Homo sapiens: one gene and its partner. The protein of the gene in region 1 purifies or fractionates together with the protein of each later gene. This does not show direct contact. Each region holds a gene or a part of one and is shown on either strand. Other genes may lie near its edges.

Region 1 (2,830 bases):
CTGGGGGGCTGCCCAAGATCATGCAGCTAGTTTGAGTCAGAGGTGGGACTAGAATACGTGTCTCCAGGTGCAAAATCTATGCCTTTGTTCATGCTGCTTCTTTCTTGCACCTCATGAGAAGTCAGAGCCTATGTTGACAGAACCCAGCACTTCCTCACTCTGGCAGTGACAAGGAGAGAAAATGACTATTGCTGAATCACAGCTGTTTTCTTTTCTTTTCTTTTCTTTTTTCTTTTCTTTTCTTTTGAGATGCAGTCTTGCTCTGTCGCCCAGGCTGGAATGCAGTGCTGCAATCTCAGCTCACTGCAACCTCCACCTCCTGGGTTCAAGCCATTCTCCTGCCTCAGCCTCCCGAGTAGCTGGGTTTACAGGTACGCCACCACGCCTGGCTAATTTTTGTATTTTTAATACAGATGGGGTTTCGCCGTGTTGGCCAGGCTGGTCTCGAACTCCTGACCTCAAGTGATCCGCCAGCCTCAGCCTTCCAAAGTGCTGGGATTACAGGCATGAGCCACTGCACCCGGCCTACAGCTATTTTCTTTATCTTCTGTTTCTTTTTCTGCCAGATTATGTTGAAATATTGCCCAAAACAGTAAGCATGAACACCTTAGGAAAAAAACCGAACCCATCCACACACATTTTCTAGTAATCGGTTTGCATAGTGGTCTTTAATGTTACAGAGCTTGTCTTGGGGAAGATAAAATGGGACATTGTGATCTTCAATTTATTTCTCCTTATCCACATAACCAAAATGTGAACCTGCAGGGACAGGTGAGAGGCACTGATGTAGAGTGGACAGAACTGGAAGTTAGGAAACCTAGGTTTGTTGCACTGGACACCATCTCGTTTGTCTCCCTGAGCAAGTCTTGTCCACTGTCTGGGCCCATTTCCTCAACCAAACAACAAGGGCAGTTCTCAGTGATATCTAGGTCCCTTTTGCACCCTTGTTCTCCTCCCTCATAAGCTCTGCTTCTCCACTTAAAGCAGACATAGGGGCTGGGAGTGGTGGCTCACACCTGTAATCCTAGCACTTTGGGAGGCTAAGGTGGGTGGATCACTTGAAGTCAGGAGTTCAAGACCAGCCTGGCCAATATGGTGAAATTCCATCTCTACTAACAATACAAAAATTAGCTGGGCATGGTGGCGGGTACCTGTAATCCCAGCTACATGGGAGGCTAAGGCAGGAGAACTGCTTGAACCCAGGAGGCAGAGGTTGCAGTGAGCCAAGATTGCATGCCACTGCACTCCAACCTGGGTGACAGAGTGAGATTCTATGTCAAAAAAAAAAAAAAAAAAAAAAAAAGCAGAAATACAGTGTGGTTCTAAAAGAAGAGAAGTAGAAAGTGTGGAGTTGCGTTTGATCAAATGATTTTTAGAATCTAGTTTTATTCATTCAAGAAGTATTTACTCAGTGCTTGTTTGTGCCAGGCACTTGGGCATTTTCTTTGCCAAAATGAGAAAGGATTCCACCGATGAATAAAGAAAGGCATGCTTCAACTTTAAGGAATGACAGTATATAAACATGCAAATTCACTTTTAAACATTTATGCTACTTGTTTGCCTTACAAAAAGATTGGTGTCTGGATTAAAACAAGATTTGATTTTCCAAAACATACGTCAGAGCTTTTCAGAAACAGTTCAGTTCCACACATATTGACCAGATCCCTTCAGATGCTCTGCTGGGTCCTGACTGAGCACTGGGGATGCAGAGGTCAACCTGGAGCTCATCTTGTTGAGGGAGGATAAACTAGTGACTGCCACTCAACACAGCCCAGTGGGTGGACTTTGTTCCTGGGTCTGTACTGAGTTGAATAGTGTCCGCCTAAACTTCTTGTCCACCTGGAATCTGTGAATGTGACCTTATTTGGAAACAGGGTCTCTACAGATATAATTGGTTAAATTAAGATGAAGTCATACTATTAGGATTAGGGTGGGCCCAAATCCAGTGACTGATATTCTTTAAAAAAGACACCAGGCCGGGTATGGTGGCTCACGTCTGTAATCCCAGCAATTTAGGAGGCCAAGGTGGGCGGATCACTTGAGGTCAGGAGTTCAAGACCAGCCTGGGCAAGATGGTGAAACCCCATCTCTACTAAAAATACAAAAATTAGCTGAGTGTGGTGGCGGGTGCCTGTAGTCCCAGCTATTTGGGAGGCTGAGGCAGGAGAATCACTTGAACCTGAGAGGTGGAGGTTGCAGTGAGCCAAGATCATGTCACTGCACTCCTGCCTGGACAACAGAATGAGATTCCGTCTCAAAAAAAAAAAAAAAAAAAAAAAAGACACCAAGAGACACAGAGGAAATGCCATATGAAGACAGAGTCAGAGGTAGGAGTGATGTTTCCACAAGCCAAGGAATGACAGGGACTGCCAGAAGTTGAAAGAGTCAAGGAATAATTCTCCCCTTAAACTTTTGGAGGGAGCAGGGCCCTACCACATCTTGATTTTGACTTCTGGCCTCCAGAATTATGAGACAGTAAATTTCTGTTGATAAGCCACTGGATTTGTGAAATTTATTACAGGAGATTAATACGGGGCCATTTAATAAAATGGAGTATATTGAGAATCTACGATGAGTTAACTTTGCAGCAATCTGATGCTACAGATAGCTAATATTATCCCTAATGAGCAATAATCAAGCAGAATTTGACTGAACTAGGACAAAAGGTTAGTGGTTAAGAGGGCAGGCTTTGAAGTCAAACAGAACTAGGTTGGAGACCTCAGCTCTGGTACTTAGCAGGGTGACCTTAGACAAGTGACTTTGCATCTTTGAGGTTGCCACATCTGTAAAATGAAGATAACTAAGACCTTCTTATTAGGTTGTTGGGAAA
Region 2 (3,656 bases), on another chromosome or scaffold:
TTGAAACTACTTGATCAGTGGCAGCATAATGGATGTTGTCTTAGCAGGCATGAAAACATTCATTTCTTTCTACATCTCCATCAGAGCTCTTGGGTGACCAGCTAAATTGTCAATGAACAGTAATATTTTAAAAGGAGTCTTTTATTTCTGAGCAGTAGGTCTCAATGGTGAGCTTAAAATACTTAGTAAGCCATCCCGTAAAGAGGATGTGCTGACATCCAGGCTTTGTTGTTCCACTGACAGAGCACAGACAGAGTTGATTAAGCACAATTCTTAAGAGCCCTAGGATTTTCAAAATGGGAAATGAGCAATGGCTTCAACTTAAGTTACTGGTTGTATTAGCCCTTACCAAAAGAGTCAGCCTATCCTTTGAAGCTTTGAAGCCAGGCACCGACTTCTCTCTAGCTACCAAAGTCCTAGATGGCATCTTCTTCCAATATAAGGTTGTTTAGTCTACACTGAAAATCTGTTGTTTAGTGTGGTCACCTTCACCAATGATCTTGGCTAGATCTTCCAGATAACTTGCCACAGCTTCTCCATTAGGACTTGCTACTTCATGTCAAACTTTTACATTATGAAGACGGGCTTATTTCCTTAAACCTCATGAATCAACCTCTGCTAGCTTCAAACTCTTCTTCTGAAGCTTCCTAACCTCTCTCAGCCTTCATGGAATTGAAGAGAGTTAAGGTCTTAGTCTGGATTAGGCTTTTGGCTTAAGGGAATCTTGTGGCTGGTTTTATCTTCTATCCAGACCACTCAAACTTTCTATCAGCAATAAAGCTATTTCGCTTTCTTTCTTCTTCTTTTTTTTCCTCGAGACGGAGTCTTGTTCTGTCTCCCAGGCTGGAGTGCAGTGGTGTGATGTCAGCTCACTGCAACCTCTGCCTCCCATGTTCAAACAATTCTCCTGCCTCAGCCTCCCAAGTAGCTGGGAGTACAGGCGCCTGCCACCACACCTGGCTAATTTTTGTATTTTTAGTAGAGACAGGGTTTCACCATGTTGGCCAGGCTGGTCTCGAACTCCTGACCTCGTGATCCGCCTGTCTCGGGCCTCCCAAAGTGCTGGTGTGAGTCACCACGCCTGCCAAATGTTTCACTTTCTTATCATTCATGTGTTTACTGGAGTAGCACTTTTAATTTCCTTTAAGAGCATTTCCTTTGCATGCATAACTTGGCTACCTACTTGGCAAAAGCAGCCTAGCTTTTGGCTTAGCTCAGCTTTTGACATGCATTCCTTACTAAGTTTAATTATTTCTCACTTTTGATTTAAAGTGAAAGACATGTGACTCTTCCCTTCACTTAGAAGCCACTGTAGGATTATTAACCGGCCTAATTTCAATATTGTGGTATCTCAGGGAATAGAATAGGGAGGCCCAAGGAGGAAAGAGACGGGGTAACAGCCGGAACACACACAACAATTATTGATTACGTTTACTATTTTATATGGGAATGGTTCCTGGCATCCCAAAACAACTATGATAGTAACATTAAAGATCACTGATAACAGATCACCATAACAGATGTAATAATAATGAAAAAGTTTGAAATATTGTGAGAATTACCAAAATGTAACACAGAGATATGAAGTGAGCATATGCTTATTTGGAAAAATGATGCTAACAGACTTGCTCAACTCAGGGTTCCCACAAACCTTCATTTGTTTAAAAAAAAAAAAAAAAGCAATATGTGCAAAGTACAATAAAATGAAGTATGCCTGTAAATGCTATGTAAATAATTGTTACACTGCATTGTTTTCAACTTTCTATTATTTTTTACTGTTTATCATTTTTTAAAAAAGATATTTTCAATCCATAGTTGGTTGAATCTGCAGGTGCAGAAGCTGTGAATATGGAGGACCAACTGCATACCATTGTAAATGGGTGTTTGGTTAGAACGGTCAGAAGCTACAAAGCAGGCATGAACTACAGATGAGAATAACTTAAGAGACATTCTGGGATAAAACAGACAATGACCGAATGGATGCAGATGCTGGAGAGAAGGACATTTCCTTCACTGGTCCTGAACTAATCCCAGCAAACTGAGGTGACTTCATAAATCCTTTCTCTTCCACTGGAATAATCACATGACATTGTTATTGTATTACTTTGTCAATTTTCATTTTTTTAAAGCCCAAACAGAAGAGGAAGATACTTTATCAATTTTAGAGTAATATATTACTGTGTCCACTTCTGCTATTAAATCATAAACTCTTTCATGACAGAAACTTAGCATTAATTTTTGAGTCCCTCACTGTTCAATGCATATAGTAGGCACTCAATGTTTAATTGTTGGTTAAATGTAAAATAAATGAACTTACATTTTGCTTTTTCTTCTCCTGAACCAAAGCTACATAGCGCAATGCAATCTTGGTCAGAGTTGTGGCAAGGGAGGCAGCAACAAAGAAATCTCCATCCAGAAGGAATCCTCTCAAGGGAGGTCTGCAAAGCAACCAAGGAAAATCAAACCCACCAACTTGCTAAGCAGCATGCAGCTTCTGTATAAATGAATGATATAGGCCTATTAAACACTCTTATTACCATCCTTCAGTGATAAGGATACCTTAGCTAACTAACTCCTTAGCTCCCAGAAGAAAGAAGGAAAAAGAAAAATAATACATGACTTTAAAACTTATCTTTGGCCAGGTGCAGTGGCTCACACCTGTAATCCCAGCACTTTGGGAGGCCAAGGCGGGCGGATTACCTGAGGTCAGGAGTTCGAGGACAGCCTGGCCAACATGGTGAAACCCCGTCTCTACTAAAAATACAAAAATTAGCTGGGCATGGTGGCACAAACCTGTAATCCCAGCTACTCAGGAGATTGAGGCAGGAGAACTGCTTGAGCCCAGGAGACAGGTTGCAGTGAGCCATGATCGCGCCACTGCACTCTAGCGTGGCCGACAGAGCAAGACTCTGTGTCAAAAAAAAAAAAAAAAAAAAAAAAAAGAAAACTTATCTTTGAATGACACAAAAGCCATCAGAATATGGAAAGATACAATATTTAATTAGGGGCATACGTAATTGCAGCTAATGAAGTACCTCCGAATTCCAGCTTACCTGTTTATTTACTGGGTAAGCCTCAAATTCTTCTTCCATAAAATGGAGATAATATATTCTATCTCAAAGGCTTATTGTCAAGACTATATGAGACAAACTACTTAGCACAATGCCTAGCACTTAGTGGGTATTCAGTAAAATTTTAGGCAAAGATTTCACCATCTTCACCATTAAAATTTACTTAATAGAAAAATGCACAATTTTATTCCATCATTTAGAAATTGAAAAATCTTCAAAATGTTTTCAGATGCTAATAAACAACAAAACTCAAATATCTTCAGTTACCCCCACTTAGCATTTTCTGAGTAAAAATAATTTGAGTTTAAACAGAACAGTTATTTCCATAAAAACACTGGAAGGGACAGAGAATTAAAACCATCAATACAATTCCTAGGGGGAAGAACTTAAACATCCTCCGCTTCTCAAGTACCTTAAATGGCAAAGATTTTCATTTTGGTTGCAAAAGCAAGAGGAAAGAAATCATTTGACTGTCTTACATACAAGAGTAATAATAAAAGTAGTACAGCTGGCAGGGTATATGTGCCATAAATTACCTGTCTTCCTCTTTCTTGGTGGGTCTAGAACTGCTAAGGGCACTCTGAG

What was found.
Region 2: the proteins of CNR2 (region 1) and COPB1 purify together in Homo sapiens (affinity purification with mass spectrometry; one large-scale study listed by BioGRID and IntAct). This does not show direct contact.

What each region holds. Positions count from the first base shown.
Region 1 is NC_000001.11:23,869,877-23,872,706, forward strand, and holds the end of CNR2 (cannabinoid receptor 2), read right to left. Parts: 3' UTR 639-2,830; downstream 1-638. UniProt on the Homo sapiens protein: Heterotrimeric G protein-coupled receptor for endocannabinoid 2-arachidonoylglycerol mediating inhibition of adenylate cyclase. May function in inflammatory response, nociceptive transmission and bone homeostasis.
Region 2 is NC_000011.10:14,472,178-14,475,833, forward strand, and holds part of COPB1 (coatomer subunit beta), read right to left. Parts: coding exon 3,608-3,656; intron 2,439-3,607; coding exon 2,318-2,438; intron 1-2,317. UniProt on the Homo sapiens protein: The coatomer is a cytosolic protein complex that binds to dilysine motifs and reversibly associates with Golgi non-clathrin-coated vesicles, which further mediate biosynthetic protein transport from the ER, via the Golgi up to the trans Golgi network.